Homo sapiens: one gene and its partners. The protein of the gene in region 6 purifies or fractionates together with the protein of the main gene of each other region. This does not show direct contact. Each region holds a gene or a part of one and is shown on either strand. Other genes may lie near its edges.

What was found.
Region 1: the proteins of SUCLG2 (region 6) and GALNT11 purify together in Homo sapiens (affinity purification with mass spectrometry; 3 studies listed by BioGRID and IntAct, with this or other methods). This does not show direct contact.
Region 2: the proteins of SUCLG2 (region 6) and AIFM1 purify together in Homo sapiens (affinity purification with mass spectrometry; 2 studies listed by BioGRID, with this or other methods). This does not show direct contact.
Region 3: the proteins of SUCLG2 (region 6) and SLC25A15 purify together in Homo sapiens (affinity purification with mass spectrometry; 2 studies listed by BioGRID and IntAct, with this or other methods). This does not show direct contact.
Region 4: the proteins of SUCLG2 (region 6) and ETHE1 purify together in Homo sapiens (affinity purification with mass spectrometry; 2 studies listed by BioGRID, with this or other methods). This does not show direct contact.
Region 5: the proteins of SUCLG2 (region 6) and PMPCA purify together in Homo sapiens (affinity purification with mass spectrometry; 2 studies listed by BioGRID, with this or other methods). This does not show direct contact.
Region 7: the proteins of SUCLG2 (region 6) and DNAJC12 purify together in Homo sapiens (affinity purification with mass spectrometry; 3 studies listed by BioGRID and IntAct, with this or other methods). This does not show direct contact.

What each region holds. Positions count from the first base shown.
Region 1 is NC_000007.14:152,115,713-152,120,013, forward strand, and holds part of GALNT11 (polypeptide N-acetylgalactosaminyltransferase 11), read left to right. Parts: intron 1-1,191; exon of another isoform or gene 1,192-1,326; intron 1,327-1,444; coding exon 1,445-1,663; intron 1,664-2,965; coding exon 2,966-3,070; intron 3,071-4,301. UniProt on the Homo sapiens protein: Polypeptide N-acetylgalactosaminyltransferase that catalyzes the initiation of protein O-linked glycosylation and is involved in left/right asymmetry by mediating O-glycosylation of NOTCH1.
Region 2 is NC_000023.11:130,141,085-130,145,358, reverse strand, and holds part of AIFM1 (apoptosis-inducing factor 1, mitochondrial isoform AIF precursor), read left to right. Parts: intron 1-4,274. UniProt on the Homo sapiens protein: Functions both as NADH oxidoreductase and as regulator of apoptosis.
Region 3 is NC_000013.11:40,799,373-40,803,673, forward strand, and holds part of SLC25A15 (mitochondrial ornithine transporter 1), read left to right. Parts: exon of another isoform or gene 1-1,352; intron 1,353-4,301.
Region 4 is NC_000019.10:43,516,886-43,521,186, reverse strand, and holds part of ETHE1 (persulfide dioxygenase ETHE1, mitochondrial), read left to right. Parts: intron 1-4,301. UniProt on the Homo sapiens protein: Sulfur dioxygenase that plays an essential role in hydrogen sulfide catabolism in the mitochondrial matrix. Hydrogen sulfide (H(2)S) is first oxidized by SQRDL, giving rise to cysteine persulfide residues.
Region 5 is NC_000009.12:136,412,931-136,417,231, reverse strand, and holds part of PMPCA (mitochondrial-processing peptidase subunit alpha isoform 1 precursor), read right to left. Parts: intron 2,680-4,301; coding exon 2,585-2,679; exon of another isoform or gene 2,557-2,584; intron 942-2,556; coding exon 841-941; intron 282-840; coding exon 18-281; intron 1-17. UniProt on the Homo sapiens protein: Substrate recognition and binding subunit of the essential mitochondrial processing protease (MPP), which cleaves the mitochondrial sequence off newly imported precursors proteins.
Region 6 is NC_000003.12:67,376,066-67,379,063, forward strand, and holds part of SUCLG2 (succinate--CoA ligase [GDP-forming] subunit beta, mitochondrial isoform 2 precursor), read right to left. Parts: intron 441-2,998; coding exon of another isoform or gene 397-440; exon of another isoform or gene 1-396. UniProt on the Homo sapiens protein: GTP-specific succinyl-CoA synthetase functions in the citric acid cycle (TCA), coupling the hydrolysis of succinyl-CoA to the synthesis of GTP and thus represents the only step of substrate-level phosphorylation in the TCA.
Region 7 is NC_000010.11:67,835,389-67,839,574, reverse strand, and holds the start of DNAJC12 (dnaJ homolog subfamily C member 12), read left to right. Parts: upstream 1-1,386; 5' UTR 1,387-1,563; coding exon 1,564-1,641; intron 1,642-4,186. UniProt on the Homo sapiens protein: Probable co-chaperone that participates in the proper folding of biopterin-dependent aromatic amino acid hydroxylases, which include phenylalanine-4-hydroxylase (PAH), tyrosine 3-monooxygenase (TH) and peripheral and neuronal tryptophan hydroxylases (TPH1 and TPH2).

The DNA of each region.
Region 1 (4,301 bases), on a different chromosome or scaffold from region 6:
TTGAAAAACTTACATTTACCGCCAGGAGCTTGACAGCTTCCTAGTACTTAAAAATTTTACTTGGCCGGGTGCGGTGGCGCATGCCTGTAATCCCAGCACTTTGCGAGGCCGAGGCAGGAGGATCACCTGAGGTCGGGAGTTTGAGACCAGCCTGACCAACATGGAGAAACCCCATCTCTACTAAAAATACAAAATTAGCCGGGTGTGGTGGCGCATGCCTGTAGTTCCAGCTACTCAGGAGGCTGAGGCAGGAGAATCGCTTGAACCTGGGAGGTGGAGGTTGTGGTGTGCCGAGATCGTGCCATTGTACTCCAGCCTGGGCAACAAGAGTGAAACTCCATCTCAAAAAAAATTTACTGAGGAGATCAGTGGTTTTATATATAATTTTTTGATATTGTATAGTGAAATTTTTCAATATTTGGTAGAACAGTACAATCCAGTGGAGTAGTATTTTCCAAATGACTAATCCACACTGTTACAAAAACGGGTGGAAGATCCATTCAGAGAGCAAGACAGACCAGGAGATATTATTTAACTTTATTTATCTTTGTTTTTTGAATCAGAGTCTTACTCTGTTGCCCAGGCTGTAGTGCAGTGGCACGATCTCAATTCACTGCAACCTCCACCTCCCAGGTTCAAGTGATTCTGCAGCCTCGGCCCCCAAGGAGCATGCGCCACCACTCCCAACTAATTTTTGTATTTTTTCGTAGAGACACGGTTTCACCATGTTTGGCCAGGCGGGTCTCAAACTCCTGACCTTAAGTGATCCGCCTGCCTTGGCCTCCCAAAGTGCTGGGATTACAAGTGTGAGCCACTGCGCCTGGCCGATAGACCAGTACATTTTAATGCAACAGTGTAAAAATCTTAATATGATTTCATATTCCACATCGTAACTAGACTTCGAAAGTTATTGAATTTTGGAGTAGTATTAACCCCATAATTATATATAGGTTGTAATTTTAAAAATACATATATTTAACCAAAACAACACACTGCAACAGGCTAAATGCAGATGTGAGAATTTAGCTGGCTTGTTTTAAGCCAGCCAGCCAGCAAAAAGGTTTGCAAAAATAGAAAGCAGTGTCACTGTTCTCACTACATTTTGTGTTTGTAATGAGTATTTAATTATTTTAAGGAATTAATAATTTGTAGGTTTCTCTGTTTTAATTTCTGTGTGATAAATATGAACAGACACAGCCCACACACGCAGACCCTCCTGGGAGTTTTCCGTAATTTTTAAGAACATCGATGACTGAGACTCACGAGTTTGAGACCCACTGATCTCATATATACGCCTGTTTCATTGATTCTCAGATACAGTTTAAGGTACATGTTATTATCATTGTTAGTAATGGACTTAATCGTGTAAAAAATCTCTATATAGTTGTATCATCATTTTTAACAAAAAATTCGATTTTCTTATTTTTACTTTTTTTAAATTCAGGAGCAGTATTTTTCCTTAAGACCTGACCTGAAGACGAAAAGCTATGGCAATATCAGTGAGCGTGTGGAACTGAGAAAGAAGTTGGGCTGTAAATCATTTAAATGGTATTTGGATAATGTATACCCAGAGATGCAGATATCTGGGTCCCACGCCAAACCCCAACAACCCATTTTTGTCAATAGAGGGCCAAAACGACCCAAAGTCCTTCAACGTGGAAGGGTAAGAAAGCTGTTTTTTCCAAGTGGCTTATGAAAAGCGTTTGATATGAAAAGTTTTGAGGTGTCCATAAGCTATGACAGGTGACACTGTGGACTTAACAGAGTGTAATGACAGGCTTCAGCTTGCCTTTCATTATATTCTCTTTATGGGAACTTCTCTACGCAAGTGTAGGACCTCAAGTGTAGATCCTTGCCTTGCCGGCATAGCTGCCTTCTGTGAGGGTAAGTTATGTGACGCTTTCCAAGAGCGCAGAGGCATATGGGAATACACCCCGGACAGAGGCCATGGAAGTGTCAACTTCGTGTGTCAGAGGCCAGGCCAACAAGTGGAGAAATGGGGCAGTGATCTGCTATTTGCTCTTAGCTCTGGGAACCAAATCACAGAGCAGAGGTGGTAGTGAGGGTCAGAGTGGGGACATGGATTTCATGCCTGGTGTTCCCAGAAGTCATCTGAGCTCAGCAGAAAGCACATTGATCAACCACATTTCCTTAGCTGTCTTTGTGTCTTAAACTCATTACAGTTATATAGTCACAGTTAAATTGTAGGGGTCCGGCCATAAAATCATCCCCTTCTCCTGAGTCATCTCTTAGAGTTGGCTTCTAAAAGCTAAGGGCAGGTACTGTCTGTGTTGCCCAGTGTCCCTTCTTTTATGAAGAAGGCACTTCTCCCAGAGCAGTGTCAACTCTCCCTCAGTGGCTAGGAGGAAGCCTAGAGCTTTCCCCCTTCCTCTTCTCTCTACCCTATAATAAGACAAAAACAAACCCAGTATCAGGATGTTTAGTGTCAGGTGTTTTTCTCTAAGTAGGAGAGAGCAGTGTGTGCCCATGTAGTTGATCGCTTACCATTATTATTTCTTGCTGTTTGTCTCACCCTCGCAGTTCTGTGATAGTTGTCACCGGTGTCTCTCCAGTGTAGCATGCATATTGCATTTCATTGTGTACTTTTTTATACATGTTGTTCTTATATCCCTGACTTCATTTGAAGGTTCTTTAGGGCAGGGATGACATTTTAATTTCTTTCATCTGCTGTAGATTAGTAAACATGTATATGTAGCTAGAATTCCTAGCTGACACTGTCTGCATGTTAAAACTGCTAATAACTTTTGGAGTTATAACTTTTGTCTATCTTGATGCTCCTGTGTTCTGAGGCTAGAACTTAGGAATTAAAAATGCATATATTTTTATGAGCCTTGGAATTCGTACCTCCGGAATAACCTTTCACATTTTGCCTGGAACCACCTCCAGGCTTGGGAGGCGTCTCTGGGATTGTTTCCCACATTCTGAGCTGTGCCTTCTCTTACAGCTCTATCACCTCCAGACCAACAAATGCCTGGTGGCCCAGGGCCGCCCAAGTCAGAAGGGAGGTCTCGTGGTGCTTAAGGCCTGTGACTACAGTGACCCAAATCAGGTGAGTGACACCTCGGGGCTCACAGCCAGTGTCCGCAAGGAGGCTTCCAGTGTAGGGAAGCTGCTGCCAGTCACTCCTGAGGACATCAGTGTCTACTATTCTGGCTTTTCTTAACCCATTTCTGTGTAGTGTTGCGTTATTGGAACGCTAAGCTTATGGGGGTTATCTATATCCTAGTGCTCAAGGTCACCGCCAGGGTCTGATTTTTCACCGAAAAAAACTGCAACCTCCAGCATAAATGGGTTAAAAGGAAGAGAGTGGCCTTAGATGACACCTCAGTCAGCTACTTTCGTCTCCTTTGTATGTTTTTCCTATCTCTGCTCGTCGTCATAGAGCATTTTAGTTGTTTACACCATTATTTGTACTTTCTAATATTATGCGGAATAAATTGTGACTTACGAGCCATAGGAATTTGTTAGAAATGGCCAAGGGAAGCACTACAGAATTTCAGTTGATTCCATTCACCTAATTTCATTTCAGCTTATGTATGTCTCCTAAATAATATTAAAACGGGCCTAAAAATCAGCAAATAACTTCAGTTTAGAACGGTAATTTCAAACTCGTTTATGTCTGATAAAATAGCATAATGGAACAGCAGTCTAATCTCATAAATTGTAGTGTCTCATTTCTATTTTAGTGGTGGGTTGGTGTCACTCAGAAAGGAAAAAAAAAGCCACTTGGGCTTTTGGGTAAATAATGTGTGCTGTGATGTGTGCTGTGAGATGTCATCCAGCGCTCCACCAGAAGAGGTCACGCCCACTGTCTCAGGTGATACGTGTGTTGAAAATGTAGTTTAAAAGGGATTTCTGGGGCCCAGTGCAGAGGCTCATGCCTGTAATCCCAGCACTTTGGGAGGATGAGGTGGGCGGATCACAAGGTCAGGAGTTCAAGACCAGCCTGACCAACATGATGAAACCCCATCTCTACTAAAAATACAAAAAAAATTAGCTGGGTGTGGTGGTGCGTGCCTGTAATCCCAGCTACTCAGGAGGCTGAGGCAGGGGAATTGGTTCAACCTGGGAGGCTGAGGTTGCAGTAAGCAAAGATTGTACCACTGCACTCCAGCCTAGTGACAGAGTAAGACTCTGTCTCAAAAAAAAGAAGGGATTTCTGTGCATCTTCTGGGTAGAAGAGGTGGCAGTGTTGTGGAAGTATTAAAATCGCGGTGACGCAGTTTCAGTGGTGTAGGTCACAGTGAGATGAGAGCTGAAATTTGTTCCAGAAAATATAA
Region 2 (4,274 bases), on a different chromosome or scaffold from region 6:
TCGAGCTGCTTTAGGTTTAATAATGCTGAGTGTGTCTTTCTGGGGAAAGCACTAGTATCAAAGCCTAGGTTAGCATGCTGACTCAACTTGACCCTAAAAGCTGTTATCTCTCCTATTTGCTCTTCTGCCCTTCCTCATCCTTCCTGTTTTCCCACACTAACTTCTCTCTGGGATTATCGATGAGAAAAGATTGACAAATATGTATTACTCATAGTAAAATAATTTGGGCATAACTCAGCACGGAATATATTGTTAGACTTTAAAAGGTGAGTGTCTGAGTAATAAGGTCAGTTATTAGCAGGTATTTGTGGAGTCCCAGGATGGTTTTGTTATATTTTATTGTTGTTAATGGCAGGTACTAGAGTGTGTGTGTAAACTAATGGCAGTGTTCCAATAGGGACGCATTCTCTGAAGGAGCAAAGCCCAGAGTAGATGAGATACACAGCATAAGTGGAAGGATTGTCCTTCGTTAGGAACATACTCACTTCTCCTGTAAGGGGACATTAGACAGAGAAGATGGATATAGGTTTGTTGATAAGCCGGTAATGAGACATTTAGTGTCCCCTATGTGTAAACAACATTCAGGCCCTGCCCTCTAGGGGCTAACTGTATTAGGCAGAAACATAAATACATAATCATAACACATAGGTGTGTAGTAAGAGAGATCTGCGCAGTATGTTGTGGGAAATACTGGGAAGGGTGCCCAGTAGAGTGATGACATCAGGAAAGGCTTTCTGGAGGAGAAGGTCTTACAGAATGGGCAATCTTATGGAATGAAGAGGCATTCACCAGACTAGAGAAGACTGAAGAGCATCCAAGTAAAAAAGAACAGCATAAGCAAAAGCACAAGGGCACAAAAAAGCATGTTTGGTGCCAGGAAATAGAAGCAGCTCGATACTGATAGAGCAGTTAGGTACAAGTTAGGAAGTGGCAAGAGATGAACCTGAGAAGTTATGCAAGGGGCCTGATTGTGGAGGGCTTTGCGTGAAAGAGCTTTTTCTGCACTGGGGAGCTGTTGCATTTTAGGCAATTGAATTTTAAATAATCACCATTGGCCGTGAGGAGGATGGATTTCAGTGAGACAAGACTAGAGAGAGACCATTTCAGAGATTATTGCAATAATCTAGGCAAGAGATGATGAGAGCCCAAATTAGAATAGTAGTGGTATGATGATGATGAAGAAGAAGAAGAAAGTAAGAGGTAAAATTTGTATAGTACCTATTCTAATCTTGTAAGCACAGTTCTTAAATGCTTTATGTGCACCATCTCATTTTATCCTCCCAATAATCTTATGAGGTAGGTATTATTTCCCTCTTACAGAGAAATAAGTTGAAATTTTTAAAAATAAATAAATTTTAAATAATTTGCCTAAACTCACATAGCTAGTAAGTGGTAGAGAGAGAATTTGAGCCCGGGTCTGTCTGAGCCACAGAATTGGAACCCAGCTATTCTGATTCCAGAGCCTAAGCTATTAATAACATCAGTGTACAGTGTACAGTACTTTTTTTTTTTGAGACAGATTCTCACTCTGTCGCCCAGGCTGGAGTACGGTGGCATGATCTCAGCTCGCTGCAACCTCTGCCTCCCAGGTTCAAGCGATTCTCCTGCCTCAGCCTCCCAAGTAGCTGCATGCGCCACCATGCCTGGCTATTTTTTTTTTTTGTCTTTTTAGTAGAGATGGGGTTTTACCATGTAGGCCAGGTTGGTCTCGAACTCCTGACCTCAGGTGATCCACCCACCTCGGCTTCCCAAAGTGCTGAGATTACAGGCATGAGCCATCGTGTCCAGCCAGTATTACTTCTTGATAGAAAGGTGATGAGAAGTAGGGAACACACTTGAGGCATGCTTAGGAGTCATGCTTGATGAGGCTTGGTGGTTGGTTAAAGGTAGAAGATGAAGGAGATGGAGGAGGCAAAGATGATTTTCTAATTTCTAGCCTGCATGTCTGAGTGGATGGCAGTGTACCCACAGCTGAGAAAGACATTACAAGAGGAAGAGCTAGTTTAAGGGGGAAGATAAAATTCAGTTTTGGACCATTAAGTATGAAGTGGAATATCTGCGTGAAGGTGTCTTCTGGGCAGTTGGACATATGACTGCCACGCCCAGGGGACTTGGGCTCAGATAGAGAGCTGAGAATCATCTGCATATGTGTAGAAGTTGAAACCATGAGAGTAGGTGAAGCCTCCCAGGGAGAACTGATCTGGTGAGAAGAGGAGGAAGGCAAGGATAGAGCCCTGGGGAACCCCAATTTTTAGGAAGCAGGCTTAAGAAGAACCCACAAAGGAGACTAGGAAAGAACTTAAAGAGCAGTATGAGGAAACCTGAGGACAGGAGCCAAGGTTGTAGGGAGTTTCAAGAAAAAGAATGTGATCCACAGTGTTACCGTGGCAGAGGAATCTGGGAAGAAAAGAACCGTAAAATGCACTGTGAGATTTGGCGGTTCAGATACCTTTGGGAGGCTGAGGCAGGTGGATCACTTGAGGTCTGGAGTTAGAGACCAGCCTGGCCAACATGGTGAAAACACATCTCTACTAAAAATACAAAAATTAGCCAGGTGTGGTGGCGCACACCTGTAATCCCAGCTACTCAGGAGGCTGAAGCACGAGAATCGCTTGAACCCAGGAGGCGGAGGTTGCAGTGAGCCAAGATTGCATCAGTGCACTCCAGCCTGGGTGACAGAACAAGACTCCATTTCAAAAAATTAATAAAATAAAACAGATACCATTGGGAAGTTAGAAAAGAGGGTAAAGCACTCTTTCAAAAGATTTAAATGAGAAAAGAGAGATGGCAATCGGATAAAAGCGTGAAGAGGACATAGAATCAAAGGTGGGACCTATTGGATGGGACAAGCATGTTAATAGGCTGGACGGGGGTGGTGGGGAGCCCTCATGCCTCATGGGAAGCTATGGAAGATCACATCTAATGGCTTCATTTGTTTTTGCAATACAATAGAACATAAGATGGTTATCTGAGAGCGAACACCGTGAGGGTTGAGTAGCGGGATTGGATTGAAGAGGGAGCTTACCAAGGACAAATCAAAGGAGGCTAAAGAAGCTGCTTATCCATCAGATCTCAGTTCATGTCATTGCCTCTAGAAAGCTTTACCCAACCCAACCTGACTAGATTGCACATGTCATATGTTCCCAGCGCTACCTGCACTGTTCTTACCACTTACATCACATTTGTCACTCTTGATTATTGTTAGTGCTTGTTAAATTGTCTTGGCCACTAAACTCTGAAAGCAGCAAGGATCACTGTCTCAACTTGATACATAGTAGGTGCTTAATTGAATGGTCTCAGCTAGTAAAGAGTGGTGCAAAGACTGGGGCCCTATTCTCTCTGACTCCAAAGCTCAAGCTCTTAACCATAAGAAGGAGTAGGGTGCAAGGGAATTAAAGGTACTGGCAAAAGAACAGTTTGGGTGTTCTACCATTGGCCCAAATTAGTTAGAATGGAGCAGCTAGTCAAATAAACAGAGAAAATTGAAAGCAAGCATAGGAGACAGACTGAGCGAAAGCTGAAGGGATGGAAAATTGTGACCAACAAGTAGAATAATTGAGGTAGGAGGAGAGGTTTAGGAGATAACAAGATGAGGAAAAGTATGAGCCAGGTTCCAAGGTCTTCAGTGAATCAGGAGGAGTAGCCAGGAGGTGGCTCAAAACAGTGATTCGTAGGAATATAGGACTCCTCTGATGTCCCTCAGAAGAGAATGAAAGTACAAGAATCTGGAAGCAGCAGACCAGTAACCTCAAGAAGCTTGCAGAATGCCAACACCTCCTCCTGGCCTTGTGATGTGGAGTGTGGGGGAACGAACAGCCTCTATGTGTAAGCTCTCCTTAAGAGAGAGCCAAGTTTCCGTGAAGGCTACAAGTTGGAGAAAGCATTCTGTAAAAATGTTGTAGATGTAGGAGACTTATTAATAAAGTAATAATAAGTAATTCCAAACAGCCATATAAGAAAGGCTGTTCCGATTCTCCTTTTCCACACATGGGTCAGGGCTTTGGGACTGTCATGACTTGCTCTAATGTTGCCTGCCTTCTCATTGCCAATTTCCAACATATGACTGCCTAAAAAAACTGGGTACCAGAAACTGTGGTTCCCATGATTACTTGGATATGGTTTCTTAAGGATCGCTTTAGGTCAAGAACTCATTCTTCTTATTGGGCTGACAACTTTTTTTGTTTTTGTTTTTGTTTGTTTTTGTTGTTGTGGTTTTGGGGTTTTTTTGTTTTGTTTTGTTTTTGAGACAGAATCTTGCTCTGTTGCCCAGGCTG
Region 3 (4,301 bases), on a different chromosome or scaffold from region 6:
AGACATGGTGGCTCATGCCTGTAATCCCAGCACTTTGGGAGGCAAAGGCAGGAAAATGGCTTGAGGCTGAGAGTTCAAAACCAGCCTGGGCAACACAGCAAGATCCTCATCTCTACAAAAAAATAAAAATTAAAAAAAATCTACTGTTGTATGGTCACAATTTTACTGGTGCCTTATGTGGAAGAACATTTCCTTTTTTAAAAATAACTGCTTTCCTTTTATTTATGAAGTTATACATTGTCATCATATAAAACTTAGAAACCACATATGCACACCACAGAGGAGACCTGCTCATCATCCACCACTGAGAATGAACCGCCCTTCTGTTTCAGTTTTCTCCAGGAGAATGCTGTTCAGATGCAGCTGGCAGTGCTACCTCTCGTCAGCAGACATGCTGCACTGAAACTGTAGATGCTGCTTATGATCCAAGATTTAGCTTTTCTTTCATTAGCAAAAAGCAGAGTATTGGAAGAGGTTGTCTGAGCCAGATGAACTTGAGGAGTTTTAGGAAGGGTCGGAAATGTCTGCGAAGATGCAAGGGAACCCACCTTTCTCTGTCCAAATCTTCCCAAAACATCAGACTTTGCCTCTTTGTTGGTCTTGCCTTGGGTATTTATTATATAGAGACTAAACAGAATTTGGAAACCACTGGGATGTTTAGCTATCCCTGCTTTGAATGTTGATTTATTTTATACCACTTAAAATTATTATATAAGCTTCAAGATTGCAAAGGGCAGTCTTAGTTATTTCAGTAGGAGTTTGAAACCTGATTGCAGCTGCAGGTCCCACACAACTGAATTCGGTTTCTTGTGCACAGCACTGTTCTCTGGAGGTGCCTGGAGGTCTGAAGGTGTGCCCTTTTATAGACAGGAATTCCACCATGATGGGTAGAGCTTGTTTTTTAAAAAGGCTTGGGACTAGATACGATTGCCCAAGAAGACAGTGTAGACAGCGAGGAGGGCTGAGCATGAATGGGATGAGCCTCCAGCACAGAAAGGGCAGGCAGGAAGGCAGTAAAGAAACAAGCAGGGCACAAACCAGGAGAGTATGGCATGCCATGATGGAGACTGAACAGAAGCAAAAACTACAGGCAACTGTAGTTTTGTTCCCTGTTGAAGGAGAGACACTCTATTAGAGAAGACCTGGAATTCAGTTCAGTTTCCTTAGCAAAGGACAAAATGGGGAGAGAAGACAGGGAAACAGTAAGCAGCCACGTGAGATTCTGGGGAAGACCTGTGTCTTCTGAGCAAAGTAGCCCCTCCAGCCACAGGATAGACAGTGACTTCTGTCTTGCATGAGTGAAACCACTGGATCTGGCTCTGCCCGCCCCTCCACTTTCTTGCTTCCTTAGCCTGTGAACAAAGTGAAGGACAGGTAAGAGCATATTGCTTTTCTGCTGAGAACAATCTAATACCTTACAGCTGCATTTTCCCACACTGCTTTCAGAACATTGAATTGCTGGGTGTCCTTAAGAAAGGGTTGGGAAATTACGTCACAGTGTCTCTCTCGTGAAGAATCACTCTGGGTACATTTATTTCATATAGTGTATGTGTTATTTAGTTCATTAAAGATGCGTAAGGCTGGGCACAGTGGCTCACGCCTGTAGTCCCAGCACTTTGAGAGGCTGAGGTGGGCAGATTACTTGAGCCCAGGAGTTTGAGACCAACCTGAGCAACATGGCAAAACCCCGTCACTACAAAAAATACAAAACTTAGCTGAGTGTGGTAGCACATGTCTGTGGTCCCAGCTACCAGGGAGGCTGAGGTGGGAGGATTGCTTGAGCTCAGGAGGCAGAGGTTGCAGTGAGATGATGCCACTGCACTCCAGCCTGGGCAACAGAGCGAGACTGTGTCTCTCAAAAAAAAAAAAAAAAGAAAAGAAAAGAAACCATCCTGATTAACCTTGTCTAATCCAGCACTCATCTTTTTTGAGCTTGGGCCCGTTTTTTTTTTCCATCCTGAGGAACAGTGTTTGCCTCTTACCTGTTGGGGAAATGCTCTCTTAGAGTCTACAAAGCTCTGACATGTATATCATGTCTCTATAGCCCTCACCGTGATCCTGTGAGAAGAGCAAGGCAGATGTTACCTCTCTTAGGGATGGAAAACTGAGGTGCCGATGTTGACCTGCTCAAGGTCACCCCGCTAAGGACTTGAAATTGTGTCCTCTGAGCTCCTGCCCAGTCTCCTTTCCATCAGACCACAGTTGGGGGTCTGGAATATTTTATAAGGGTCAGTTCTAGAGAGAAGATTAATCAGGAGCAGTGAAAGGAAAGAACTGCTTGTGAGAGCCTGTGGTGAATTTCTGCAATCACATTGTAAATATTTGTCTGTTCCCGGTTTCAACATGACCCAGAATGTTCTAGTTTGACGTTTGGCTGGACAGGGTCTTACATAGCAGGAGTGCTCAGGTACATGTTTGTTGAACATATGACAAATGGATGATTCTTACAAAATCCCATCCTATACCTATTACTGTTTCAATTCCAGTTCTACACATTCATACTACATGCAGAACCAGGGGCCCATGCACCTCCTTCTGTGCACTGGTCAATGAAAGTATTTATTGGAAAGCCAAAGTCCACTGCATATCTGATTTGACTGTGTCCTTGCACTATAATAATGTGCTTGGTGTTCATTCAGATGTCTGAGCCATTATTATATCTTAAACTCAATAGACTTCTACATTTATTGACTGCCACCTTTGTCCTGGCAAACTTGGCAGATCCTGGTTAATGCTCCTAATTGACTATTGCCTGTCAACAGGTTAACAGAGAGTCCCTGAGGGAGGCCAACTGTGGATCTGCAGGCTGGCTGCAAGACAACAGAAACCATTTTAAGCTTCAGTTCTAACAAGCTGCTAAGGAGTGAAGTGGGGGAAAGGAGTGGACTGAACAGCATTGGATGGTTTCCACACCCCATAAAAGCGTGTGCAAGTACATTTGTGTACCTGGTTCTCCTTTGCTAATGGTTTTAGGCTTAATTCTCTAACATCAAAAGGAAGTCCTTACTGCAAACAGTGTCTTCCTACTGAAAGAAAGCTCCACTCTAAGCCAAGTCTTCTGAAAGAGTTGCCTCTGGCCATGGTACAGAAGCTAGACCACCAGGGACTAGCAAACCAGGGCCAAGACTGGTGCCACCTTGATTTTATACTAATCTTTAACACTGGAAAAACTTGAGTACCCCTGAATATGGTAAGTCCATCTGTGCTTTTTTTTTTTTTTTGAGACGGAGTCTCACTCTGTCGCCCAGGCTGGAGTGCAGTGGCGCAATCTTAACTCATTGCAACCTCGCCTCCCCAGTTCAAGCAATTCTCCTGCCTCAGCCTCCCGAGTAGCTGGGACTACAGGCGCCCACCACCATGCCCAGCTAATTTTTGTATTTTAGTAGAGATGGGGTTTCACCATGTTGGCCAGGATGGTCTTGATCTCTTGACCTCGTGATCTGCCCACCTCGGCCTCCCAAAGTGCTGGGATTACAGGTGTGAGCCACCGTGCCCTGCCCCATCTGTGCTTTTGCTCACAGTTTGGAGAAAAATTGTTAGGGGATTATATCTCTACCTGAGTAGTTAGCTGAGGAGATTCCCACCCACCCTTAGGGGTTTTTGGAAATCTCTGAGGGTGATCTTGGCTGTCCAGTGAGAGCATGATGCTGGCATTGAATGGGTGTCAGGGAACCAGTTCAGTCCTTCCTGCCCAATGAAGGATTGTCCTACCCCCAAATGCCAGTCATGATCCCATGACACAACACTCTTCTAGGGCTGGAAGGGATCTTCTATCCCAACTCCCATGAACCAGGAACTCGCAGAGAAGCCTTTCTTCTGAAACACTTCTCAGACTTTTCCCCGTATTCGTTTTTTTTTTTTTGAAAGAGTCTCACTGTGTCACCCAGGCTGGAGTGCAGTGGCATGATCTTGGCTCACTGCAACCTCTGCCTCCCTGGTTCAAGCGCTTCTTGTGCCTCAGCCACCAGAGTAGCTGGGATTACAGGCGTGCACCACCAGGCATGGCTAATTTTTAGTAGAGACGGGGTTTTGCCATGTTGGCCAGGCCTCAACTGATCTGCCTGCCTTGGCCTCCCAAAGTGCTGGAATTACAGGTATGAGCCACCACGCCTGGCCTCCCCATATTCTTGAACTCTTACTGGATTCCAGTTTCACAACCCTGCTGGTGACATTTGGCTGCTGGTACTAAATCCATACATGAGGTGAATGCTTCTGTTTTGTATTTGTGCATTCATCCCTCTGCCTAGTTTAGATTTCCAGTTTAGCAATTTCACCTAATACCATTGAGCTTGCAGACTTGT
Region 4 (4,301 bases), on a different chromosome or scaffold from region 6:
CTAAATTTTATGTTTTTATTAGAGATGGGGTTTCGCCATACTGCCAGGCTGGTCGTGAGCACCTGGCCTCAAGTGATCTGCGTGCCTCAGCCTCCCAAAATGCAGGGATTACAGGAGTGAGCCACCGCACCTGGCCCAAGTTTTCTTTTTTTAATAAACTGATTGAGAAGTGAACATCTTAGCTGCCACAGGGTGGCCGAATCAGAAAGTTAGGTTTGCTGTTAAATATGCTGGCTTAGAGAAGTACTGCTGAAAACACTGATCCCCCAGGTCCCTTAGAATCAGAGAGTCTGATTTAATTGTTCTGGGTGGACACAAGGAATTGGCATGTTTTAAAAGCTCCACCATTGATTCTTATGTGGCTCAAGTGTGGGTTTCAATACTTCCTCCTTTTAACATTGTGAAACGAGTAATTTTTCTTCCAACATTTTATTATGAAAAATTTCAAGCATAGAGAAAAGCTGAAAAAAAATTTTTTTTTTTTTTTGAGACAGGGTCTCACTTTGTCATCCAGGCTGGAGTGCAGTGGTGCAATCATAGCTCACTGCAGCCTCAACCTCCTGGCTCAAGCGATCCTCCTGCCTCAGGCTTCCAAATAGCTGGAACTACAGGTGTGCACCACCACTCCTGGCTAGTTTTTGTGTTTTTTGTAAAGACAGAGTTTTGCCACATTGCCCAGGCTGGCCTCGACCTCCTGGGCTCAGGCAATCCTCCCTCCTTGGCCTCCCAAAGTGCTGGGATTAGAGTGAGCCACTGCACCAGGCTTAAAATTTTTTTTTACAGTGTACATCTCTAACCATCCATCACTTCATCTTTTTTTCTTTTGAGATGGAGTCTCACTCTGTTGCCCAGGCTGGCGTACAGTGGCACAATCTTGGTTTACTGCAACCTCTGCCTCCTGGGTTCAAGCGATTCTCTTGCCTCAGCCTCCCGAGTAGCAGTAGCTGGATTTACAGGCGAGTGCCACCACACCCAGCTAATTGATTTTTAAAAGATTTTTAGTAGCGATGGGGTTTCACCATGTTGGCCAGGCTGGTCTCGAACTCCTGACCTCAAGTGATCCACCTGCCTTGACCTCCCAAAGTGCTAAGATTACAGGTTTGAGCTGCTGTGTCCGACCTATTCTTTTTTTTTTTTTTTTGGGTGGGGGTCTCGCTATGTTGTCCAGGCTGGTATTGAACCCTGGCTAAGGTGATCCTCCCGCCTCAGCCTCCCAAGTAGCTGGGCCTACAGACGTGCACCATCATGCCTTGCTGTAATTGTTCTATTTTATTATTAGTTATTATTGATTTATTAATGTGCCTAATTTATAAATTAAACTCTATCATAGGTGCGTATGTATAGGAAAAAGCATAGTGTGTAGGGTTCTGTACTATCTGCGGTTTTAGGCATCCACTCCGGGTCTTGAAATGTATCCCAGGCAGATAAGAGGTGTTTACTATAGTTTTGAGTAATGAAGGGAAAGAACTTGGGAACCAAATGGAAAAGAAGCTGAGAGCTTACTTGCCACCAGGGGGCAGTGTAGGCCGTGGGAACTCCAAGGCCAGCAAGCTGAATGCTTTACAGGATTCCTTCTGGGTTATGTTTCTTTGATGGGGGTAGTTTCAGGTTTAGCTGCTGCAGGCAACAGATGAAAGAAAAGCTCTGGGGATGTGTCACAGACATGATGCATCATGGAAGGGAAGAATGAATTTGTTGAAAGAATTTGGGGTTAGGCAGGCTGGGCTGTTGCGGAAATCACTCGACAAGTTTCAGGGACAATGAAGGCTGCTTTAGGTCAAGATGTTATATGTTCCCCACCCACAATTTCTTATTTTGAATTTTTTAAAATCTACATTGAAATAATAGTACAAAATATAACAATACACAAGCACAGGCCGGGCGCGGTGGCTCACGCCTGTAATCCTGGCACTTTGGGAAGCCGAGGTGTGCGGATCACCCGAGGTCAGGAGTTTGAGATCAGCCTGGCCAACATGATGAAACCCCGTCCCTACTAAAAATACAAAAATTAACCGGGCATGGTGGCACGCTCCTGTAATCCCAGCTACTCAGGAGGCTGAAGCATGAGAATCACTTGAACACCCAGGAGGTAGAGGTTGCAGTGAGACGAGATCGCACCACTGCACTCCAGCCTGGGCCACAGAGCAAGACTGTCTCAAAAAAAAAAAAAAAAAAAAAAAAAAAAAACAAGCACAAATTTCATCAGCCATCAGAGCAATTATGTCACTATAGGTCATGAAACTTTTAGAACCGCGCCCCTCTCCCCCAAATGTTTTTGGGGAATGCGAGTGAAAATGGGCAAAAAGTCCAAAAATCGTTTTGATTTTGCAGAATGTCAGGGTTCTCTAGGCTATACTTTGAGACTTCCTCTTTTACAAAACCTTTGTCACGTCTAACAAAATATGCAGTAACTTTTTTTTTTTTTTTTTTTTTTTGAGACAAGAGTCTCGCTCTGTCGCCCAGGCTGGAGTGCAGTGGTGCGATCTCGGCTCACTGCAAGCTCCGCCTCCCGGGTTCATGCCATTCTCCTGCCTCAGCCTCCCGAGTAGCTGGGACTACAGACGCCCACCACCACGCCCAGCTAATTTTTTTTTTTGTATTTTTAGTAGAGACGGGGTTTCACCATGTTAGCCAGGATGGTCTCGATCTCCTGACCTCGTGATCCGCCCGTCTCGGCCTCCCAAAGTACTGGGATTACAGGCGTGAGACACCACGCCCGGCCAATATGCAGTAACTTTATATCATTATTAAATATTCAGCTGTGTTCAGATGTCTCCAATTACCCGAGGAATAATTTTTACAGCTTTTTTTTTCTTTTTTCTTTCTTTTTTTGGTAGAGATAGGATCTCACCATGTTGCCCAGGCTGGTCTCAATCTCCTGGGCTCAAATGATCTTCCCCTCTCGGTGACTCAAAGTGCTGTAATTATAGGTGTGAGCCACGGTGCCCAGCCTACGGCTGTTTTTAGGAACCAGGATACAATTGAGCTTAGTGTTTGGCCATTATGTCTATTTAGTCTCTTTTGTGTGTGTGTTTGTGTTTTCTTTTTCCTTCTTTTCTTTTTGTTTTGTTTTCTTTTTTATTATTTATTTATTATTTTTTATTTATCAAAAATCTTTTTGGATCTAGAACAGTTTCATATCCTTTTGCCCCAGGATATTGACTTTTTTTTTTGAGACAGTCTCGCTCTGTCACCCAAGCTGAGGATATTGACTTTTGTTTTTTGTTTTTTTTTTTTGAGACGGAGTGTTGCTCTGTCACTCAGGCTGGAATGCAGTGGCATGATCTCTGCTCACTGTAACCTCTGCCTCCCAAGTTCAAGCAATTCTACTGCCTCAGCCTCCCCAGTAGCTGGGACTATAGGCATGTGCCACCACGCTTGGCATGCTTGGCTAATTTTTTTTTTTTTTTTGAGGCGGAGTCTCACTCTGTCACCCAGGGTGGAGTGCAGTGGCGTGATCTCAGCTCACTGCAGCCTCCGCTTCCTGGGTTCAAGCAATTCTCCTGCCTCAGCCTCCCGAGTAGCTGGGATTACAGACATCACCACCACGCCTGACTAATATTTGTATGTTTTGTGGAGATGGGGTTTCACCATGTTGGCGAGGCTGATCTTGAACTCCTGACCTCAGGTCATCCACCTGCCTTGGCCTCCCAAAGTGTCGCGATTAGGCGAGCCACCGTGCCTGGCTTCGGCTAATTTTTGTATTTTTAGTATGGATGGGGTTTCACCATGTTCACCAGTCTGGTCTCAAATTCCTGACCTCAAGTAATCTACCTGCCTCGGCCTCCCAAAGTGCTGGGATTACAGGCGTGAGCCACCGTGCCTGGCCGCATTTAATACATTTAACCTACTGAACATTATAGGTTAGCCTACTTTACCTTAAAGTGGTCAGAACATTTACATTAGCCTACAGTTGGGCAAACTCATCTAACACAAAGCCTTGTATTTTATACAAGAGTGTTGAATATCTCATGTAATTTATTGAATACTGAATTGAAAGTGAAAAACAGAATGGCTGTATGGGTGCATGGAATATGATTTCTATTGAAAGTGTATCACTTTTGGCTTGGTGCAGTGGCTCATGCCTGTAATCCCAGCACATTGAGAGGCTGAGATGGGAGGATTGCTTGAGGCCAGGAGTTCAAGACCAGGCTGGTCAACATAGTGAGAGCCCATCTTTACTGAAGAAAAAAAAAGACAAATGAAAAAAAGAAATAAAATGTATCACTTTCACATTATTGTAAAGTCAATAAATTGTTAGTCATCGGGCACATCACACCTGTAATCCCAACACTTTGGGA
Region 5 (4,301 bases), on a different chromosome or scaffold from region 6:
CGTTCCCGCTACTTCACCTTGGCAATCCCCCCAGTGTACTGGGCCACAGATCTGTCAATATCCACGGCCTCTGCGCTCCCCCAGGCCGGCTGGACCCCCAGGAGGTACTTCCGGGCACAGTCCACCAGATGCTCGTGCTCCACGCCCACGCCGGCCAGCACCATGCGGTCGGGAGTGTAGTAGTTCCTCAGGTAGGAATGCAGCACCTCTCGGTTGATCTTTGCTACGTTTTCTGTGGGGCAGAAACGGTGGAGGCCAACTGTGTTCTCCCTGTAAGCCGCCTAATGGGGAAGAGCCACAGACACAGGTGACTGAAGACAGCATGACCAGGCTTCCTCCAACAAGCAGCACCAGCGCCCATCTGCAGCCAGCCCTGGGAAAATCCGACGCAAGCTGATATTTTACTTGCACTCTGGCAATAGCAGCTGCGTGCGTATTTATAAAGAGTAAAATCTGCCTCTCCAGAATACAAATTCACAAAAAGCCTAAGATTAATTGTGTTTAGTAGTAAAGACCTAGTTACTATAAAAACTGGAAAATACGAACATTGTATAAACAGCAGACTCAGAAATCAAGAATGTTCTAAGCTGAGTGCGGTGACTCACGCCTGTAATCCCAGCTACTTGGGAGGCAGAGGCAGGAGGATCACCTGAGCTGAGCCCAGGAGTGCAAGACCAGCGTAGGCAATGTGGAGAAACCTCATCTCAAAAAACAAAAAAATGTTCTGTATATATCCATAACCTGCAAGGACAACATCACGGAGGCACCCTCCCCACCACCCCTGGTGTCCCGAGGACCACTGTTCGAGATGCGGGGGCATTCTCGAGTTTGACATTTTACTTCATGAATCATCTCGGTGAGAAGTGGCTCTGGGTCAGGCCGCAGGTTCAGGTCCTCCAGCTCAAACTGGACCGCCATCCGCGTCATCTCGACTTCTTCATCTGCAAGAGAACCCAAAGGCCAGGGCTGAGTCTGCACAGGCAGAGATGAGGAACACAGCAGTGACCCACAGCTTGTGTGCTGGCCTGAGTGTCGCCTGTTGGTGGCTGTTGGCAGTCACCTCTGCCTTCATCTAGGGGCAGACTGGGTGCTTGTGTGAGTGAGGGGGACTGCTACAGGGAGCAGGAGCTAGGGGACCTGGGCCTCACATCCCGCCTCAGCCATGAAGCAGCCACGTGAGCCTGCTAAGCCCTGGCTTCCTTGCTGGTGAAAGGCACCGAAGACACTGGACCTGTCTGTCCCAAGTGCTGCTGTGAGGACACGAGACCAGACATGAAGGTGCTTAGAAACAGAGGCACACGCTGGGTGCGGTGGCTCACGCCTGTAATCCCAGCACTTTGGGAGGCCGAGGTGGGTGGATCACCTGAGGTCAGGAGTTCAAGACCAGCCTGGCCAGCACTGTGAAACCCCATCTCTACTAAAAATACAAAAATTAACTGGGCGCGGTGGCGGGCGCCTGTAATCCCAGCTACTCAGGAGGCTGAGGCAGGAGAATCACTTGAACCTGGGAGGTGGAGGTTGCAGTGAGCCGAGATCGCGCCACTGCATTCCAGCCTGGGTGACAGAGACAGACTCTATCTCCAAAAAGAAACAGAGGCACAGACAGATGTCAAGGGCGCCTTTCATCAGTTGTGACCACAAGATCTTAACGTGGGACTGTAGCCTTTGAACACCAAGCGCAAGCTGCTGTGAAACTGCACCCTTAGGGTATCTGGAAAAGCCAACGTTCCCCTCTCCTGGTCCACCCCTGACAGGGACTCAAAGTCCTGCCATCTGCAAGGCTGAGGAGGGTAATGGAAACAGTGAAATGGAAATTTCTGGCACACACCATTCCACTTGTTTAAAGACGGTCCGAGGTGCCCTTCCGAAATCAAAGAACCAATTTCGCTAAAAACATCCCACAGGGATGAGGGCACAGATGTCTCAAATACACATTCTCTCAAACACTAAGGACTTTTACAATCACCAGTGGGTTTTTTTTCCTTTTTGTGGAGAACAGAGTCTTGCTATGTTGCTCAGACTGGTCTCGAACTCCTGGGCTGAAGTGATCCTCCCATCTCTACATCCCTAAATGCCGGGATTACAGGCGTGAGCCAGCACGCCTGGCTACTAGCACTATTTCTTTTTCCTTTCTTTCTTTTTTTGAGACAAAGCCTCACTCTGTTGCCCAGGCTGGAGGGCAGTGGCACAATCATGGCTCACTGCAGCCTCAACCTCCCAGGCTCAAACGATCTTCCTACCTCAGCCTCCCGAGTAGCTAGGACTCTAAGTGTAAGCAACCACAGCCAGCTAATTCTTGTATCTTTTTTGTAGAGACAGGGTTTCACCATGTTGCCCAGGCTGGTCTCAAACTCCTGGGCTCAAGCGATTTGCCTGCCTGAGCCTCCCAAAGTCCTGGGATTCCAGGTGTGAGCCACCATGCCCAGCCCCAGCGCTATTTCTTATGAGATCTCGCTGTCACTTTGTGTTGGCCTAAAGCTCCAATTACATGGTGCTCTCCCTCATGGCTACAGGGCTTCTGCAAACCTTTCCGGTCTTCCCTATGTCCAAGCCCACCTCAAACGCCAGCGGCTGGGATCCACACCTGTTAGCCGGGGCTGCAGAACCACATCAGCCAGTAAGGCAACCACCGTGTCCAAGCCTTTGCTATCAGCAGACACAGCATACATGGTGGTGTCTCTGGAAGAAAACACAAGCCCATAATGCCAGGCCCTGAACTCACACTCTGCTTAACAGCCAGGGGACGCTCGGGCTTTGCGTGCCAGGTGGACAATGCCAGGCCCTGAGCTCACACTCTGCTCAACAGCCAGGGGACACTTGGGCTTTGCATGCCAGGGGCACCTACCTTTTGTTGGGGCCCAGCAGACATTTCAGGGACGCTTGGGCTTTGCGTGCCAGGGGACACCTCCTACCCTTCATCGGGGAACAGCAGACACTTTTCCCCTTTCTCTTTTCCTGTCTTACAGTGTGAATGCTTGGTAGGCAGGACTCACAGCTACACACAGCTTGAGTCAAAATGGAGCCACTTCTGATACAGATTTTTGTAACTATACTCTCTCTCAAAAGGTGAAGTGTTTCATCCCAGCCTCCTGTTGACTGAACGAACCCACTGGTGAGTGTGGAAACATGCCCGGCCTTGGCTGGCTTGGGGGACAGCAATGGCTGGCTCGTATGGAGCTTGTCTCACTGTAACATCTGTTCCCGGCATGAGGCACTGCACAGTCAGAAGTGCACAGAGCTGGCCCATGGGACAGGCACGAAATCATGGGGTGCTCTGAGATCAAGTGTGATCAAGGGAGACCATGCAGAGCAGACGCAACAGCCACGAAGAAGAGGGAGCTTGGGAGGCAGGACGCAGTCACCAGTGCCTCTGAAGAGGGGACTTGGCTGGACCTTCACCCTGAAGAGGAGCCATTCTCAGTGACTTTGGCTCTCCACATGGGGAGAATGGCAAGAACAAAAGCCTGAGCTGAGGGCGAGGGGGGCTGGGTCTGAGTCAGGACACCAGCCACCTGGCCAGAGAAAGGAGTTCATCTGGGATGAGTGAGATTCGAGGCAAGAGTCGGAGAATCAAACACACCAGGCAGGAACCTGGCAGGGGCAGCTGGGAGTCAGGGGGTATTAAGAGGCCTTGTTTTAGAACATGAATATGTTACCTCCAAGCTAACTTTAATTCTTAGCATTTAATGTGTCTTTTATGTGTAATTTTTTTAGCATTCAAACTTAAATCAACAATTTTAAAAATCTGTGATCTATATTCACCCATCTCACATTGCCCAGTGCTTTCTGAACAAGCTCCACACCTGGCATGCAAAGACCACTGCACTGTGCTCGAGGCAACACTGCCCCCTCCCTCCACCAAGCAGCCGGCACCTCCCTGGCTCGGTGCCTTTTGCCCCTGCTGTCTCCTGGTCTGGAATGCCTTGTGCCCCGTGTGTCTAGCAAACTCCTTCTGGAACCAGCCCAACCCTGCATTTCCTATGATTCCTTTCCCAACTCCAGACCAAGTCAGCCACTCATCCTCCTGGCTCCTACCGCCTTTGGCTACGGGGTCCATTACGTATGCAAGGCCCTCTGCTCTATCTGGGAACAGGGCCTGCTCTACATCCCTGGCATGCAGCCAACAGCCTGGAGGAACTGACGGGGGTCAACTGAGCTCCTGGGGGCTGTGCTTCTCTGTGTAAGCGCCATCCACCCAAGTCTCCATCCAGGACAGGGCTCCTTCTCCCCGTGAATCTCCACACCTCCCGCTGGGAGGGGCTCAGAGGGAATCTGAGCAACGACAAGAACGTCAGTTCCCA
Region 6 (2,998 bases):
AAGGGCTTGCAAGAGGGAAATGAACATATTTTACTGATGGAAGCTGAGTTGTCTGCTGATAATCACAGCCATGTGGATTTAATGCGGTTTTGGCCCACACCAGAAGTCACTTGTCTTAAAGCCCTCTCAGACGTCATCAGGGGTTTGGGCTGTGACCTGATTTGAGAAAGGAAGTTCCGAGAATCTGCCCAGCTATGTCCACAAATCCACTGCTTTGGAGACTCTGGCGCATCCAGCATGTCCATTTCTGCCTTCTCCTCACTCTATAAAATGAAATGGGCTGAGCCCTTCAAAACGGGCAAAGCAGCCTCTGATGGCAATCTCTTGACTGTTCCTGGTGGATCTGGAGTATCTTCTGGCCAAGTCACTTCATTCAAAGGTGTGCTTGGGGACTATTTAACATGAGAACTGCTTTTCTGCCATTTTAGAGTGAACAACTCCTGTAGGAGAAATGTAATAGAATTTAAGTGTCTAATGAAATATCTCATCCTACATCATTTCCTGTGCTTTTATCTAGTTGGCAAGACAGAGCCTATTTATAAACAAAGACCTTGAAATATAGGCCTTGGAGAACTTGCCTTACCACAAAGAGTGCAGATAAAAAGAGGCACTGGGTCAGCACATTTCATATAAAGAGGCAAATGCTGGATTAAATAGAAATGGGTGGATTGAAAAGATGATGCAGCACTGATTCCCCTGGGACCCTGGGTCTACCCAAGCAGCAGTGAAGATGGCCGCTTGGCACTGTGTCTTCACCTTAAGGCTCACCTACTCCTGTTTTTACAGAGGAAGCTGGTGAAAGTCCTCTCTGGAAGGTGAAAGCATAAAATGTGGGAAGCTGCTACCTAAAATCTCCATGCTGGCTCTGCCATGTACTTGTTATGTAGTTTTGGGTAAATCGTTTAACTTCTTTGAGCCTTAACTTTTGTTTCCATACAGAGCACTATCATCCTCGTAATCTTCCCAAGAACTAATATCATTAAGTGCTTATGTATGCCAGGCACAGTGCTAAGTAACTTATACACAGCATATGAAATCTTTACAAAAACTATGAGTAGTCCTATTGTTCCTATTTTACAGATAAGGCAACTGAGGCACAGAGAAGTTAAATAACTTTTCCATGGTCACAGAGGCGGTAAGTGTCAGAGATGGGACTTGAACTGTTCTCTGTAATTATAAACGCTGCATGTTCTAAAGATATGCTAGTCTGCTTACCTACTTGAAAAATGAGGACAGTATAGCTGATGGTATAGATTGTGATGAGAAGCAAATGAAATGAGTGTAAAAGCATTTTTGTAAATGGTGCAGTATCTGTGGCAGGCCTGGCTGGCTTTGCACCACAGACTCCTGCTCCTCTTCTGCAGTAGAGTGCTATTGCTGGAAAGCAGCTGCCCAGCCAGAAACTACATTTCCCAGGCCCCCCTGCATCTCGAAGGGGACATGTGACTGAGTTCAGGCCAAAGGAATGTCACATGGCCATGACAATCTCCAAAGGGACTCTTCACACTCGGTTTTCCTTGTCTGCTTTCTGGAGTGTTCCTAGCTGGGGCAGCCCTGGAAGTCACCTTTTTGGTTCTGGTTGTGTTTTGTCTTGCTTTTTGTTTTTGAGATAGGCTCTCGCTGTGTCACCCAAGATGGAGTGCAGTGGTGTGATCTCAGCTCACTGCAGCCTCAGCCTCCGGTGCCCAAGTGATCCTTCTACCTCAGCCTCCCAAGTAGCTGAGACTAAAGGCACACATCACCACGCCCAGCTATTTTTTGTATTTTTTGTAGAGATGGGGTTTTTCCACATTGCCCAGGCTGGTCCTGAACTCCTAAACTCAAGGACTCCATCTGCCGTGGCCTCCCAAAATGCTGGGATTACAGGCATGAGCCCTTGCACCCAGCCAAATCACTTCTTGAAGATGGCAATGACTCCTTCAGCCTGGATACTTTAATAACTCTCTGGAGCCAAGCATCTTACCCACTCACCCTCTTAGACCTTATGGGAATGAGAAAGACCCTTCTATAATGTTAAGACTCTGAAATTTCTGCATTTTTCTGTTGTTACAGGAGCTAGCATTATTTTGACTAACATATGACTTTGTAAATGCTGTGGAAGGCAGCTTCTAAAATGGTTTTCAAAGATCAATCACTCTTGCCTCCTGGTAGTCACATCTTTGTAGAATCCGTCCCCCTTGAGTATGATCTGGACCCACAGCCTTACTTCTAATAGATAAGAACATGGCAAAAGTGATGGAGTGTCACTTCTGAGACTAGGTTACAAAAGCCTGTGGCTTCAGTCTTGCTCCCTTTAACTCTTTTTTCACTCTGATGAAGCAAACTACCCTGCTATGAGCTGCCCTCTGGAGAGACTCACCTGGGCAAGGAACTGAGGGCAAACTCTGGCCAACGGCTGATGAGGAACTGAGGCTCTGGGTCTAATAGCCAAGGAGGAAGTGCATCTGGCCAAGAACCATATAAGGGATCTTGGAAGCAAATTCTTCCCTAGTCAAGCCTTGAGATCACTACAGCTCGGCTGACACTGTGATTGCAGCCTTGTGAGAGACCCTGAGTGAGAGGATCCACCTAAGCCACACCCAGATTCCTGACCACAGAAACTGTGAGATAATAACTGTTCTTTTTGTTAAGCTGCTACATTTTGGGGTAATTTGTTAAGTGCTGATAGGTAAGTAACACAGATGTAAAAATGTATTATTTCATTAACACAACCTGCGTGCACTTTGATTCATTTGACTGTGGCAGGTGTTAGATAGCAGGCTAAGGAATTTAGAAACTAATCAAAGCATGGCTTTCATGGAGTAATGACAGAGTGTGAAACAAAAGCCCTGATGGACACAGGAGCAAACCAGTCTTTGGACCAGAAGGTAAATGACAGTTACACGTGTAAATTTTGTTTTAGACAGAGTCTTGCTCTGTCACCCAGGCTGGAGTGCAGTGGCGTGATCTCAGCTCACTGCAACCTTCACCTCCCTGGTTCAAGCAATTCTCCTGCCTC
Region 7 (4,186 bases), on a different chromosome or scaffold from region 6:
TTTTCTTGCTTCTCTTCAGAAATAAACCTTTAAAAAGATGTATATAGGTGGGCTAAAAGAAAAACTATTTTTTCCCCTCAGGTGGGGGAATTTAAAGTGTTAAGGGCCAGGCATGTTGGCTCACATCTGTAATCGCAGCACTTTGGGAGGCCAAAGTGGGAGGATCACTTGAGTCCAGGGGTTTAAGACCAATCTGGGCAATATGGCGAGACCCTGTCTCTCTGAAAAATGAAACAAAAAAAGTGTTAAGGCAGTCAAAGTGTTGTGTCCCTGACCACTCACCTTGTTCTCTAAATCCCAGACCTGAACTGTGTTTCTTAGGGCCAAAATGAACTGAAACATAAATTGCCTGGACCTACCTCAGACTAGAGACACTCCTGAGTCTGGAGAACCAACCCAGGAGAAATAGCACAGCCATCTGACCCGAGTTATCATACAGTTCTTCTCATTGTCCTATTTTATTTTCTCTAAAGCACAAATCACTATTTTATTTTTTTATTTTTTGAGATGGAGTCTTGCTCTGTAGCGCAGTCTGGAGTGCAGTGGCACCATCTCGGCTCACTACAGCCTCTGCCTCCTGGGTCCAAGTGATTCTTCTGCCTCAGCCTCCCAAGTAGCTGGACTACAGGTGTGGGCCACCATGCCTGGCTTACAAATCACTATTTTAAATGATCGTGTTTTTTTTTTTTTTTTTTTTTTTTGCATGTTTTTCAGCTGTCTTCCTCCATCAGAGCGTAAGCTCCATAAAAATCAAGACTGTGTTATTGGCTGGGCGCTGTGGATCATGCCTGTAATCCCAGCACGTTGGGAGGCCGAAGCAGGCAGATCGCTTTGAGCTCACGAGTTCGAGACCAGGCTGGGCAACATGGCAAAACCCCCTCCTCTTAAAACATAACAAAACAAAAACCAAAAATTAGCTGGACATGGTGCTATGTGCCTGTGGTCCCAGCTACTAGGGAGGCTGAGGTGGGAGGATCGCTTGAGCTGGGGAGACAGAGGTTGCAGTGAGCTGAGACTGCACCACTGCACTCCAGCCTGGGCAACAGAGTGAGACCTTGTCTGAAAATAAACAAATAAAAAATAAAATTAAGTATTTTAAACACTAAGAAAAGCTCCCATTATCCTTATTAACACATCCTAAGATTTTACCACATTGCTTCACATTTTTTTTCTTTTTTTTTTTTAAAGGATAGAGACAAAAATATATAGGAGATGGAGAAGTGGCTAATGTGGCAAGTTTCTGAAAATAGACAGTCTTTATTAACTCATAAGACAAATGGTTCACATGCATCTCTTATATAAACTCAAACTACAGATCCCAGGCAGCACTGCAATAATAGACACGTGGACTGTTCTTTTCTTCTCTGTAAACAGCCAATGAGAGGCAGAGTTTACAAAGGTCTAGGATGACATCTGGTGTATTGACTGTGGCCAGTCTTAAAGCTAGTTTTTGCTATGTGGAACATGCTGCTCTAATTCAGATTTAAAGAGTTTCTTCCTGTTAATTCGAAGCTCACTGTGCCTCTTGTTTCCGAGGGAAGAAGGACTGATTAAGTCATCTAAATGGATGCAATACTGAATTACAGGTCAGAAGATACTGAAGATTACTACACATTACTGGGATGTGATGAACTATCTTCGGTAAGACAGTGGATAATATTTTTATCACAACAGTATTCTTTTTCACAATAGTATTTCAAGTTTTTATTTAAGGTTTTAACTTTGAATTTTTAGTCACATTGCCTACAAACCTAACCTTGTGTTGTTTTAAAGCACTTTTGGCTCAGAGAAAGTTAAGAATTTAAATGTATGTTGGGATTTTACTTGAATAGTGTCCTATGGGAATTTTACGGAAGCTTCTGATTAAATATGTGTATTCTGGCACATGGCCATATGCTGTTTCACAATATAGTATATTAAAAATAAATATTTGAAATTTTATTGTAATTTCTGATGGCAGTGTTTCACAGTATATATAAGCTATACCTTTATTATGGTGACTCATAATTGAGGTGAAATGAAATTTCTTATAAAATTAGGGATTTTAATATATTTTATTAAAATGTGTACTCCTATGTGAGCAGTCAAAATAGAAACAAAGAAGCATCCCTTTATGTTAATATTTCAAATTGTGTGACAGAAATTACTTCTTGAAAGGGTGGCTTCTGAAACAAAACATGTGAAAACTCTGTAGCTGTTCACTGGATCTGTAAGAAAACAAAATTTTTAAAGTTCTCAATAAACAATTATAAAGGTTGTAGAGGTTTTTTAAATTATGGAAAAATCATTTATAATTCTCTCTCCCAAGGATAACAGTATTAATATTTTGGCATATTAATCTCCACTATTCTTTCTATGTATATTCTTTAAAGACCTGTTTGGGAGGATATTATATGTACTTGTTGATTCCTGCTTTTTACCCATTCGTATTATAACAAGGAATTTTCCATGCTATTAAACTTTCCTTGTACACTTTTTAGTGGTTGCAAAATATTTTATTTTGCTGTGTTACCACAGTTGAATTATTCTCTTATTGTTAAATATTTTATTTCCAATTTTTCAATATTTCAAATAATGTTGAGATTAATATAAAATATATTCATTATTAAATTATATATTATTAAATCATGTTATTAGGATATATTTATGTTTTATAATTAATGTATTTTATTTTATTTATTTTTATTAAAATCTAAGTAGTAAAATTAACATTGTAAAGCAAAATGTTTTTATATTTATTGTTGTTTCATAAAGGCAGTAGTTCATTAATAAAATGTGCTTAGTTTTGTTTTAAGAATAGAATGCATTACTGGACACAAAGGATTAAAATCTCTATTTTTGCCATGCTGAGGAAGTTATCTTAGACACGTTGAAATTAAAAAAACTGCCCCGCCCCCAGAATAGCTTATAATGGTCTTTTAGTTGCATATTTCTTCTCAAGAATGTGTTATTCTTGTTTATGTTGGTGGTGATTTGCTTATAGCAATTGAGAAAGCTTATTACCATTTTTACCATGTGTTATTCACAGTTGAAATTATACTATTATCAAACAATTTTTGAAGGAATAATTTAAAATCAAAGGAATATAATTTAACTTGATAAGGCTGACAATTTGGATTTAAAAAAATACATGCTAGCTTATACAGTAAGGGTCATTATATCTCCATAATCTTGTGACCTATTTAGTCAGTCCTTTTTTTTTTTTTTCAATTTTACTTTAAGTTCTGGGATCCCTGTGCAGAATGTGCAGGTTTGTTACATAGATACACATGTGCCAGGGTGGTTTGCTGCACCTATCAACCCATCATCTAGGTTTTAAGCCCCGCATACATTAGGTATTTGTCCTAATGCTGTCCCTCCCCTTCTCCCCCACCCCCCGACAGGCCCCGGTGTGTGATGTTCCCCTGCCTGTGTCCATGTGCTCTCATTGTTCATCTCCCACTTATGAGTGAGAACATGTGGTGTTTGGTTTTCTGTTCCTGTGTTAGTTTGCTGAGAATGATGGTTTCCAGCTTCATCCATGTCCCTGCAAAGGACATGAACTCATTCTTTTTTATGGCTGCATAGTCAGTCTTTTGAAGTTATGCTGTTGTCTTTTCAATCTACATAGAAGGAGGATTCATTTTGGACAGCCTTACAGAAAATAATCTCGTTGTTAATGTGTAATATTCAAAATATGGTTACCAGGTGGAGTCATACTTCCTTGTCTCAACATTCCTTTTACTGGATGTATTTTACTGGTCTGTCAATGGCATATCATATCTAGATAACAATTATTTATTTTTAATGAAATGTTTGTCATAATATTGTCACTTCTTTATATATATGTGTGTGTGTGTGTGTGTGTGTGTGTGTGTCATTTTTTCTCTCTTTTTTTTGTTTTTTTGAGATGGAGTCTCACTCTGTTGCCGGGCTGGAGTGCAGTGGTGCAATCTCAGGTCACTGCAACCTCCGCCTCCCAGGTTCAAGTGATTCTCCTTCCTCAGCTTCCTGAGTAGCTGGGACTACAGGCACATGCCACCATGCCTAGCTAATTTTTGTATTTTTAGTAGAGACGGGGTTTCACCGTGTTGGCCAGGATGGTCTTCATCTCTTGACCTCGTGATCTGCCTACCTCGGCCTCCTAAAATACTGGGATTACAGACGTGAGCCACCGCACCTGGCTTTTCTCTTCTTTTTATAGGTA